Regions from separate parts of the Homo sapiens genome. Here region 2 is linked to region 1. Evidence: fine-mapped expression QTL. A gene starts in region 1. The other region holds a variant in brackets. All regions are shown on one strand. Distances are from middle to middle.

The links. PIP is the estimated chance that this variant, and not a neighbour inherited with it, causes the effect. A credible set is the group of variants that fine-mapping cannot tell apart.
Region 2: its variant is the best candidate, but not a certain one, in a credible set for the expression of PNRC1 in T cells (TOPMed, PIP 0.70).

The regions. Positions count from the first base shown.
Region 1 is chr6:89,078,325-89,083,694 of GRCh38, reverse strand. It overlaps PNRC1 (proline rich nuclear receptor coactivator 1), which reads right to left and starts at 2,944. Exons shown (of 2, transcript NM_006813.3): 1 at 2,261-2,944. The coding sequence starts at 2,800. PNRC1-DT (PNRC1 divergent transcript) reads left to right here and starts at 3,115. Exons shown (of 1, transcript NR_187250.1): 1 at 3,115-3,533. RefSeq lists enhancers at 1,271-2,231, 3,750-3,839 and silencers at 2,140-2,519, 2,910-3,059, 3,110-3,319.
Region 2 is chr6:89,123,438-89,128,807 of GRCh38, reverse strand. It overlaps a transcript of PM20D2 not described here. Among named protein-coding and RNA genes, the nearest start is that of SRSF12, 8.1 kb to the right of the region's middle. RefSeq lists a silencer at 124-418 and an enhancer at 124-418. The variant C/T (reference allele first, on the strand shown) is at 3,333.

The DNA of each region.
Region 1 (5,370 bases):
CTCATATCACATATCTAGTTTTGTTGTGTTTAAGTTTGCCCACAGCCATAGAAAAGAACAAAATTATGTTCTTTGTGACAACACGTATGTAGCTGGGGGCCATTACCCTAGACGAATTAATGCAGAAACAGAAAACCAAATATCGCAAGTTCTCACTTACAAGTGAATTTGGGAGCTAAACACTGGGTACAACATGGATATAGTGGGGAACAACAACAGACACTAGGCACTACTAGAAGGGGGGTTGAGAGAGAGATGGGGACCTACTGGGTACTATGCTCACTACCTGGAATGGGATCATTCATACTCCAAACCTCAGCATCACGAAATATACCCATGTAGCAAACCTGCACAAGTACCTCCTTGATCTAAAATAAAAGCTGAAAATTACAAAAACTTTAATTGGGCATGGTGGCTCACGCCTGTAATCCCAGCACTTTGGGAGGTCAAGGCAAGCAGATCGCTCAAGCTCAAGGAGTTCGAGACCAGCCTGGGCAACATAGCGAAACCCCATGTCTACTACAAATATAAAAATCAGCCCGGCGTGGTAACACGCGCCTCGGGAGGCTGGCTGAGGCGGGATCCCTTCAGCCTGGGAAGGGGAGGATGCAGTGAGCAGAGATCGATCGTGCCACTGCATTCCAGCCTGGAGTGCGATAGAGGCAGACTCTGTCTCAAGAAAAAAAAAACAACAAAAAACTTAAATTTCCCTTGACTTTTAAGTTCACTCTTGTTCGCCACTAAAAATGCAGTTAATCACCACTGCTAGTTACCAGTATGCAACGTGAACCAGTTCTAAAATGTCAAACTAAAAAAAGTCTGAAATAACCCAAGTCCACCTTTCTACAACTGTAAGGAAGACTAATGAGCTCTCTTCCAAATACGAGTGCCAGAAACAATCTTTGCTGTGTACCTCCTTTCTGGTTTAGTAACTGCTTCAAGAACGCTGCTTCACTCACCTTAATCTTTCCCAACTTAAGTGGGCCTTATAGGAAGTCTTGAAAGGATGGAAAAGCGTAAGGTAATCCACTAGATCACTGCACTACCAACACTTGTAACGCGGTAGTAAGCAAGACACGACACGAAAGAGGACCACAACTTTCCACGTCAATAAGGTTCACTGCCAGAGCTCCCTAGTTAGTACCTGTTCTAGAAAACAGGCCAGGAAACAAGCACAAAAGCTTTTAGGTAATCACGGATATTTCAAAAGTCGTGGAATTTTAAAAGGGAGACATTGAGACGATAATTTAAAGAAACAAGGTGGGCAAATTTTTTCCCAAGGGCACAGATAAACCGCAAATCTCTAATTCAATGCAACATTCTTCACTAAATAACGGGAACTTTTTCATTTCATTATTACGAAGATTAAGTCATTGAACTTAAGTCCATAAAACGTTATTCTGACAAGACTTTGAAATCATTTCGTAGACTTAATCCTATTTAAACTTCTATCCATTTTATCCTAATGCAATAGCACTGCAATCAGACGGGCTAAGTCAATTCAATTGCTAACTCTTCTGAAAACTTACTCTGGACACACTAACACGAAGTACCACAGTGGCAAAAGTAATAAAATCAGTTTTGTGCGGCTCCTGCCAACTCTTAACTTGGAACCACTAAGTAGGTCAGGCCCGAGGCGGGCAGAGCCCCAACTGGACTGCGCGTCCCACACCGGGCACCTCACATTTTGGCACAACTCCAACCAAACGAAACCCAGCCGCTCGGAGCCCACTCCACCCCCTACGGCGGGACGTTAGAGGCCGTCTCCGCGTTTCACCGACTAGGACTGGGGCTCCCGATAGCCGGGAGGCCGAAAGCCGGGCCCAGTCCTTCCCCAGCTGCCCCCACCCGGCCTCGCCTCCTTCATGGGCGCCGGAGCGCCGGGCACGTAGCGCGCGCTGACGTCAGCCCTCCCGCGGGCCCTGTCCCTGCCCCCACCCCGCCGCGCGCCCGGAACGCCGAAACCCCCTGGAACGCCGCCAGCCTTCTAAATCGGGGCTGTTGCTGGGGCGCAGCGGCGCTTCTCATTGGCCGACTCCTGGGAGCCAATCAGAAGCGCCAGCGCATGCCTCCCCTTCCCCCTTCTTCCCCCAAAGCAAGAATGGAGCGGGCGTCACGGAAACTTCCCTCCCGAGTAAACAGCCGCCCCCCCCACCCCGCCCCCACCCGCCCGACCCCCCGGGTGCAGGGTCTGCAGCCCCAGAGCTCGGCCGCGACCGTCTAAGGGCCCGACTCCCCAACGGCCCCCTGGCGGCCTCACCTCTTTCCTGAGGGGGGTTTGGCCGGGAGCCGCGGGCCGCAGCGGGGCAAGGTCGGGGCTGGCTCCCTCCGTGCCGGCTGCGGCTGCAGGACTCGGGGCCAAGGCGGCGGCCGGGCCCGGGACCTCCTGCGCTCCGCTCGGGCCGGTCGCGGGGCTCCGGCCGCCCTCCAGACTCGGCCGGTGCTGCTGGTACTGGTGGAAGCGGCTGGGCAGCTGCCCTGCGGGGCTGGCCCGCACCTTCTTCTTTCGCCGCTTCTTCGGCGCTGCCCGAGGAGTGCCTCCCGCCACGGCGAGGCTGCGGTTGGGCAGAGCTGCTGGAGCGCGAGGCTGGGGGGTCAGACACGGGCCATCTCCCCCTAGGAAATGAGGGAGGAAGAGGGTCGGGGGCAGTGCCCGGGGGTCCGGGATCCGGGGTAAAGGAGGCGGAGCCGTGGTCACCATCGGGAGGGCCCCAAAGTAACCTCGGGAGGAAAAGCCAAGCGGCGCAAGGCGGCCACCCAGGACGAGCGGCTCCCGCTGCGGGACGGAGACGACAGTCATAGCGCTAGGAAGCTTGTCGCTCAGCAACGAAGAGAGAAGGAGAAGGTGAATGAAGCCAGTGAAGATAGGGTGGCGGCGATGGATGCTGCTAGGAGAGCCTGAGAAGATCGCGGAACATGACTCGGGCGGTGGCGGCGCAGCAACAAATAGCCACAGCCCCAGCTCCGAGTGTTGTTATCGGAAGCTCCGCCCCGCGCCCGCCCACTTTCCTGCGAAAGCCCAATTAGAGTGCGACAAGGCAGGCCACGCCCCCTCGCTCCGCCTCCGCAGCTTCGGGTAGACACACACAAACAACCAGCTTGCTGCAGCCTGGCACAAAGAGGGCGCACTGCGCAGGCGCTGCCAGCGAGCTCTTTTGGGAAGAATCGGTCCCGCGAACAATGAAATTGGGTTTCCGCCCCACCCTCTTTACTCCTCCCCAGCACGCCCCTGCGCTTCGCCGGGCTAGGGAGTGGTGGTACTGAAATGTCCCGGCGGAGTTTGTTGATGGGGGTGGGGAAGGGAGGGGGCAGGGGGAGGGCGGCAGGAAGAACGGGGGCTGGGAAGAGGGGATGACTTTGGCAAGGCCACGGTTGCCTCCTCCGCTGCTGACCTTGGGGAAGTATCCGTTTTATTTTCAGCCCAACATAACAGCGTTATCATTTTAAAACAAAGATTTCTAAGTACGCTGTAAGGATTTCTTCCCTAGCAATCGTGAAGAAAATCAGTCTACATTTAAATTTTATCTACTGAAGTATGGCTCACGATTCTTTCATTTACTTGGTTCGGCATCGCTGCTTATTAGTCTCGGTGATCAGAGTAAAAATCAAAGTGACTTACTGATTGAATTAGCCCCTCGATGTATAAAAAGTTCTCCGTAAATCCATAAATGGAAGTTGGAGTTTTTACTGATTTCATACTTGAAGGATTGTGAGACTTTGGGATCAGAACATTGTGCCTGGTTACTTGAGGAGGCGGCAAGCCGGCTTGCGTCTCAAAGGGAGAAAGTGAAACAGCTCTGCAACATAGAGTATTTTGTTAGCTGCGCGTAAATAGAAATTTTTCGCGATCTCCCCGCACTGCTCAACCACAAAAAAGAATTGTGGCCATAATTTATCAAGCATTTATGTTCCAGGAACTGTTCTTTACATAGATTGTCTCACTTTAACCTCACAACAACCCTTACGAATAGGTACTAAGAAAAATAGATCAGACCTCAGCTCTGCGAAGTAGGCAGGCTGTCATTCTCTTCCTTTCACTACTAATGCCTGGGGCAATTGTTTAAAGGCATTTTGTTCCTGATTAGCTGCCTACGCATTATCTTTAAGTTTCTGAAATTTAAGATACAAAGAACAATGTATAGCTAGTCAAGAGCCCACGATATTTTAATGTAAATTGGTAAACAATTTAGGAGCTGCCTCTTTTCCTTTAAAAACCTACTTGTAACTTGCTAATCCGAGTGTATATTCAGGGCAGCTTGAATCTATGGTCCTGGGTTGCAGTCCTCAAGCTTGGCCTGATTTTGCCTCAGCTTCTTTTTGGAGGGACAGTACTGTATTTTATTCCCATTTTACAGCTGGGGAAACAGGCTTAGAAAGGCTAAAGGACTTGTCAAAGATCAAACGGTAAGTTAACATCAGAATTTGATCTCCAGTCCAGGTACTGCAAGACAAAAGTTTTAATTTTTTTTTTTTTTTTTTTGAGACGGCGTGTCACTCTGTGGCCAGGCTGCAGTGCAGTGGCGCCATCTCGGCTTACTGCAACCTCCGTCTCCCTGGTTCAAGAGATTCTCCTGCCTCAGCCTCCCTAGTAGCTGGGATTACAGGCACCCGCCACGCCCAGCTAATTTCTGTATTTTTTAGTAGAGACGGGGTTTCACCTTGTTGGCCAGGATGGTCTTGATCTCCTGACCTCGTGATCCGCCTGCCTCGGCCTTCCAAAGTGCTGGGATTACAGGCGTGAGCCACCGCGTCCAGCCCTGCCACACTAGATTCTACATTATTAGAAGACCACAGTAATCTTACACTTCTGTATCCTCACCGCCTCTACAATAGTTTTCAGCTTTGGAGTAGTAAGCAATTAGTAAGCAATGAAACGTTTTATGATTGATGGCAAAGTTGGACAGATTGCATATCCAGAAAAATGCTTCCCAATCACTTTATAAACTTTTTTTTTTTTTTAGACGGGGTTTCTTTCTGACACTCAGATTGGAGTGCAATGGCATGATCTCGGATTACAGCAACAGCCGCCTCCCAGGCTCAAGAGATCCTCCAACCCCAGCCCCCCACGCCCCTGAGTAGCTGGGACCACAGGCACACACCACCACTCCTGGCTAATTTTTTGTGTTTTTAGTGGAGACAGGGTTTCACCATGTTGCCCAGGCCGGTCTCAAACTCCTGAGCTCAAGCCATCTGCCTGTCTCAGCCTCCCAAAGTGATGGGATTACAGGAGTGAGCCACCAAACCCAGTCAACCTTATAAGCTTTTAAAACTACATTTCAGGCCAGGCGTGGTGGCTCACACCTGTAATCCTAGCACTTTGGGAGGCCGAGGCGGCTGGATTACCTAAGGTCAGGAGTTTGAGACCAGCCT
Region 2 (5,370 bases), 45 kb before region 1:
TTTTCCATAAGTGTCAGCTGGCTGAGAAATAAAGAGAAAGTACAAAGAGAGGAATTTTACAGCTGGGCCACCGGGGGTGGCATCACATATTGGTGGGACCATGATGCCCACCTGAGCCTCAAACCAGCAAGTTTTTTAATTAAGGGTTTCAAAAGGGGAGGGGGTGTAAGAACAGAGAGTAGGGACAAAGATCACATGCTTCAAAGGGCAAAAAGCAGAACAAAGATCACATGCTTCTGAGGGAACAGGACAAAGGGCAAAAGCAGAACTACTGATAAGGGTCCAACAAAGATGACAAGGCAAAGGGCAAAAGCAGAACTACTGATAAGGGTCTATGTTCAGCAGTGCACATATTGTCTTGATAAACATCTTAAACAACAGAAAACAGGGTTTGAGAGCAGAGAACTGATCTGACCACAAATTTACCAGGGTGGAGTTTTCTCCCCACCCTAATAAGCCTGAGGGTACTGCAGGAGACCAGGGCGTATCTCAGTCCTTATCTCAACTGCATAAGACAGAGACTCCCAGAGCAGCCGTTTATAGACCTCCCTCCAGGAATGCATTCCTTTCCAAGGGTATTAATATTAATATTCTTTGCTAGGAAAAGAATTTAGCAATATCTCTCCTACTTGCATGTCCATTTATAGGCTCTCTGCAAGAAGAAAAATATGGCTCTTTTTGCCTGACCCAGCAGGCAGTCAGACCTTATGGTTATCTTCTCTTGTTCCCTAAAAATTGCTGTTATTCTGTTCTTTTTCAAGGTGCACTGATTTCATATTGTTCAAACACACGTTTTACAATCAATTTGTACAGTTAACACAATTATCACACTGGTCCTGACGTGATGTACATCCTTAGCTTACGAAGGTAACAGGATTAAGAGATTAAAGACAGGCATAAAAATTATAAAAGTATTATTTGGGAATTGATAAATGTCCATGAAATCTTCACAATTTATGTTCCTCTGCTGCGGCTCCAGCCGGTCCCTCCATTTGGGGGTCCCTGACTTCCCACAACAGGACTAAATGAATTTAAAATTTTATTTTAAATTTAAATAGTCCCATGTGTTTAGTGGCCACAGTATTGGACAGTGCAGATATAGAACACTTCCATTATTACAGAAAGTTCTATTAACCAATGCTGAGCTAGGCTAGACTCAGTGTTTTTGGAAGAGCATTTCAGCTAGGTGCAGTGGCTCTGGCCTGTAATCCCAGCACTTTGGGAGGCTGAGATGGGTGAATCACCTGAGGTCATGAGTTTGAGACTAGCCTGGGCAACATGGTGAAACTCCATCTCTACCAAAAATCAAAATTAGCCAGGCTTGGCGGCACATGCCTGTAATCCAAGCTATTCGGGAGGCTGAGGCAGGAGAACTGCTTGAACCCGGGAGGCAGAGGTTGCAGTGAGCCAAAATCACACCACTGCACTCCAGCCTGGGCAAGAGAGTGACACTCCGTCTCAAAAAAAAAAAAAAAAGCATTTCACAGGTACTGATGTGAACTTCCTTCAGAAGAGCATATAATGGATGTTTCTCTTTGTATTAATTTAGCAGTCATTTATGGCCATTGCCTGGACCCACTACTTCATTAGGGGTTGCAAAATTATGACATTATAATTCTATCATCTCCTCTTTATTTTATTGACTGGAATACTTTTAGAAAAACAAAACAAAACAAAACTTCCTTCATCAACCATTTGGGTTACCCTGAGGAATAAATTTATACAGGAAAGTTAGGATCCAAAGGTGACCAATTAGGGTTGTTTTTTAGTATAATTATGAACTTGTGCACTTAAAAATATTTGATATGTTTTAATTCATTGCAGTTATTGTTCTTATTGCTACTCAAATTGTCTTATCTCTAGCCAGGATTGTCTTTGGAATCCTTTTCACATGACCCCAGAAGCTTTTGATAACTTTTTTCTGATATGACAAGATATTTTAGGTTCATTGTGTACATTTTTCCCTCAAGCATGGAATCAGCCACACTTCCAAAAAGTCATTGTTTATTTTAAGACAAAATTATATTTAGGGAGTATGGTCTGGGCCATAAGGGGTGCCAAATGGTACTGGGCTGGTCATTGTTTCTAAGCCTTTTCAGTGGACAATGCTAATAACTCCTTTTTTTTTTTTTTTTTTTTAGATGGAGTCTCGTTCTGTCACCCAGGCTGGAGTGCAGTGGCGCAATCTCAGCTCACTGCAACCTCCAAGTTCAAGCAATTCTCTGCCACCCGAGTAGCTGGGATTATAGGCGCCTGCCACCATGCCCAGCTAATTTTTGTATTTTTAGTAGAGATGGGGTTTCACCATCTTGGCCAGGCTGGTCTTGAACTCTTGACCTTGTGATCCACCCGCCTCGGTCTCCCAAAGTGCTAGGATTACAGGCGTGAGCCACCATGCCAGGCCTTTTTTTTTTAAGACAGGTCTTTCTATGTCCCTCAGCCTGGAATGCCGTGGTGCAATCATGGCTCACTGCAGTCTTAACTTCACAGGCTCAAGTGATCCTCCCACCTCAGCCTCCCCAGTAGCTGGGACTACAGATGCGTGTCACCACACCTGGCTAACTTTTTAATTTTTTGTAGAGACGGGGTCTCACTTTGTTGCCCAGGTTGGTCTCCAACTTCTGGGCTCAAGCCATCCTCCTGCCTTGGCCTCCCAAAGTGCTGATACTACAGGCATGAGACACCATGCCCAGCCAAGAAATACTTTACTTTTTTTTTTTTTGAGACAGAGTTTCACTCTGTCGCCCCGGCTGCATTGTAGTGGCATGATCTCAGCTAACTGCAACCTCCACCTCCCAGGTTCAAGTGATTTTCCTGTCTCAGCCTCTCAAGTAGCTGGGGCTACAGGCACCCACCCCAATGCCCAACTAATTTTTGTATTTTTACTAGAGATGGGGTTTTGCCATGTTGGCCAGGCTGGTCTCGGACTCCTGACCTCAAGTGATCCGCCTGTCTGGGCCTCCCACAGTGCTGGGAATACAGGCATGAGCCACTGTGCCTGGCTGAGAATTTTTTTTTTTTTTTGAGACAGAGTTTTGCTGTTGTTGCCCAGGCTAGAGTGCAATGGTGCGACCTTGGCTCACTGCAACGTCCGCCTACTGGGCTCAAGAGACTCTCCTGCCTCAGCCTCCCGAGTAGCTGGGATTACAGGCACCCGCCACCACGCCCGGCTAATTTTTTTGTATTTTTAGTAGAGACGGGGTTTCACCATTTTGGTCAGGCTGGTCTTGAACTCTTGACCTCTGGTAATCCACCTGCCTTGGCCTCCCAAAGTTCTGAGGTTACAGGCATGAGCCACTGCACCCAGCTGAGAAATGGTTTTTTTTTTGAGA[C/T]GGAGTCTCGCTCTGTCACCCAGGCTGGAGTGCAGTGGCGCGGTCTCGGCTCACTGCAACCTCCGCCTCCCAGGTTCACGCCATTCTCCTGCCTCAGTCTCCTGAGTAGCTGGGACTACAGGCGCCTGCCACCACACCCAGCTAATTTTTTGTATTTTTAGTAGAGACGGAGTTTCACCGTGTTAGCCAGGATGGTCTCGATCTCCTGACCTCGTGATCCGCCCACCTCGGCCTGCCAAAGTGCTGGGATTACAGGCGTGAGCTACCGCGCCCGGTGAGAAATACTTTTTAAAAGAGAAAATATATCACACACAAGACCCTTTTAACTGATCTGCTTGTACCAGTCTCTACTGTTCCAATTCATCCTCCACATTTTTGTCAGAATATCCTTATTAAACACAAATCTGATCTTAATCTCCTGCTTAAAAAATCTTGATGGGGCCAGGTACAGTGGGGTTACATACCTGTAACCCCAGCATTTTGGAAGGCTGAGGCAGGAGGATCACTTGAGGCCAGGAGTGTGAGACCAGCCTGGAAACATAGCAAGACCTACCTCTATAAAAAATTTAAAAATTAGCAGGGCATGGTGGTACACACTTGTAGCACCAGCAACTTGGGAAGCTGAAGTGGGAGGATTGCTTGAGTCCAGGAGGTTGGGGCTGCAGTGAGCCATGACTGCACCACTGCACTCCAGCCTGGGCAACAAAGCAAGACCCCGAATTGAAAAAAAAAAAAAAAACAACAACAGCAACAACAAAAACAACTTTGGCTCTAAATCTCCATTCCAATCTCTTTAGCATTCTTCCTTCCTTCTCCCCTAGTTCAGCAACACTACACTACTCTCACCACAAATGTCCCTTTGCTCATCGAGTTCACTTTGCTTTTTTTATTCCTGGGTGAATTTAATCCAATAAATAGCACAAACATTGATTTCCTCTAAAATAACTCCTAGTACTCCCCGCCAGAGAACTAATCTGTTTCCATTATATCCTCCATACTACTCCGAAATACCTTTATGTGGCACTAATGAAACAATATTATAATGACTTATTTACATACGTGTCTATCTCTAGCAAGAACGTCTCTCAAAAATTAAAGATACTCACCAGTGGTGGTACTATTTAGTTTTATATGTTACACTGATGAGACATTAAATGTGGAATTGCATAGTGTGAGAGTTAAAACTACAGGCACACACCACCATACCCAGCTACTTTGTTTTTATTTTTATTAGAGATGAGGTTTCGTATGTTGCCCAGACTAGGCCCTTTCCATATTTACATTAGGGAGAAAGTTTTAGTTTTGTGCCAGTATGTCTTCAACATCTCTATATTGAGTGATTAATTTCCCTTTTATAAGAGAGAGCAGGCTTGGAGCCTGCGCAGACAAAAGTAATCGGCTGGAATTTCCAACATGGTTTTGTTTATTATTATTATTTTGAGACATGATCTTGCTTTATTGCCCAGGCTAGAGTGCAGTGGCACGAACACAGCTCACTTCAGTCTCAACCTCCTGGACTCAAGTGATCCTCCCACCTCAGCCTCCAGAGTAGCTGGGACTACAGGCACACTCCACCATGCCCAACTAATTTGTTTTTATTTTTACTAGAGATGAGTTATCATATGTTGCCCAGACTAGTCTTGAACTCCTGGCCTCAATCATCCTGCCTCAGCCTCCCAAAGCACGGGGATTACAGGCATGAGCCATTGTGCCTGGCTCTCCTTCTGTCTATAAACCTTTTTTTTTTTTTTTTTTTGAGACAGTCTCACTCTGTTGCCTAGGCTGGAGTGCAGTGGCACGATCTCAGCTCACTGCAACCTCCACCTCTTGGGTTCATGAGATTCTTGTGCTCCAGCCTCCTGAGTAGCTGGGACTACAGGCACACACCACCATGCCCAGCTAATTTGTTTTTATTTTTATTAGAGATGAGGTATCGTATGTTGCCCAGACTAGTCTCAAACTCCTGCCCTTATGCAATCCTCCTGTCTCAGCCTCCCAAAGCACTGAGATTACAGGCATGAGCAACTGTGCCTGGCTC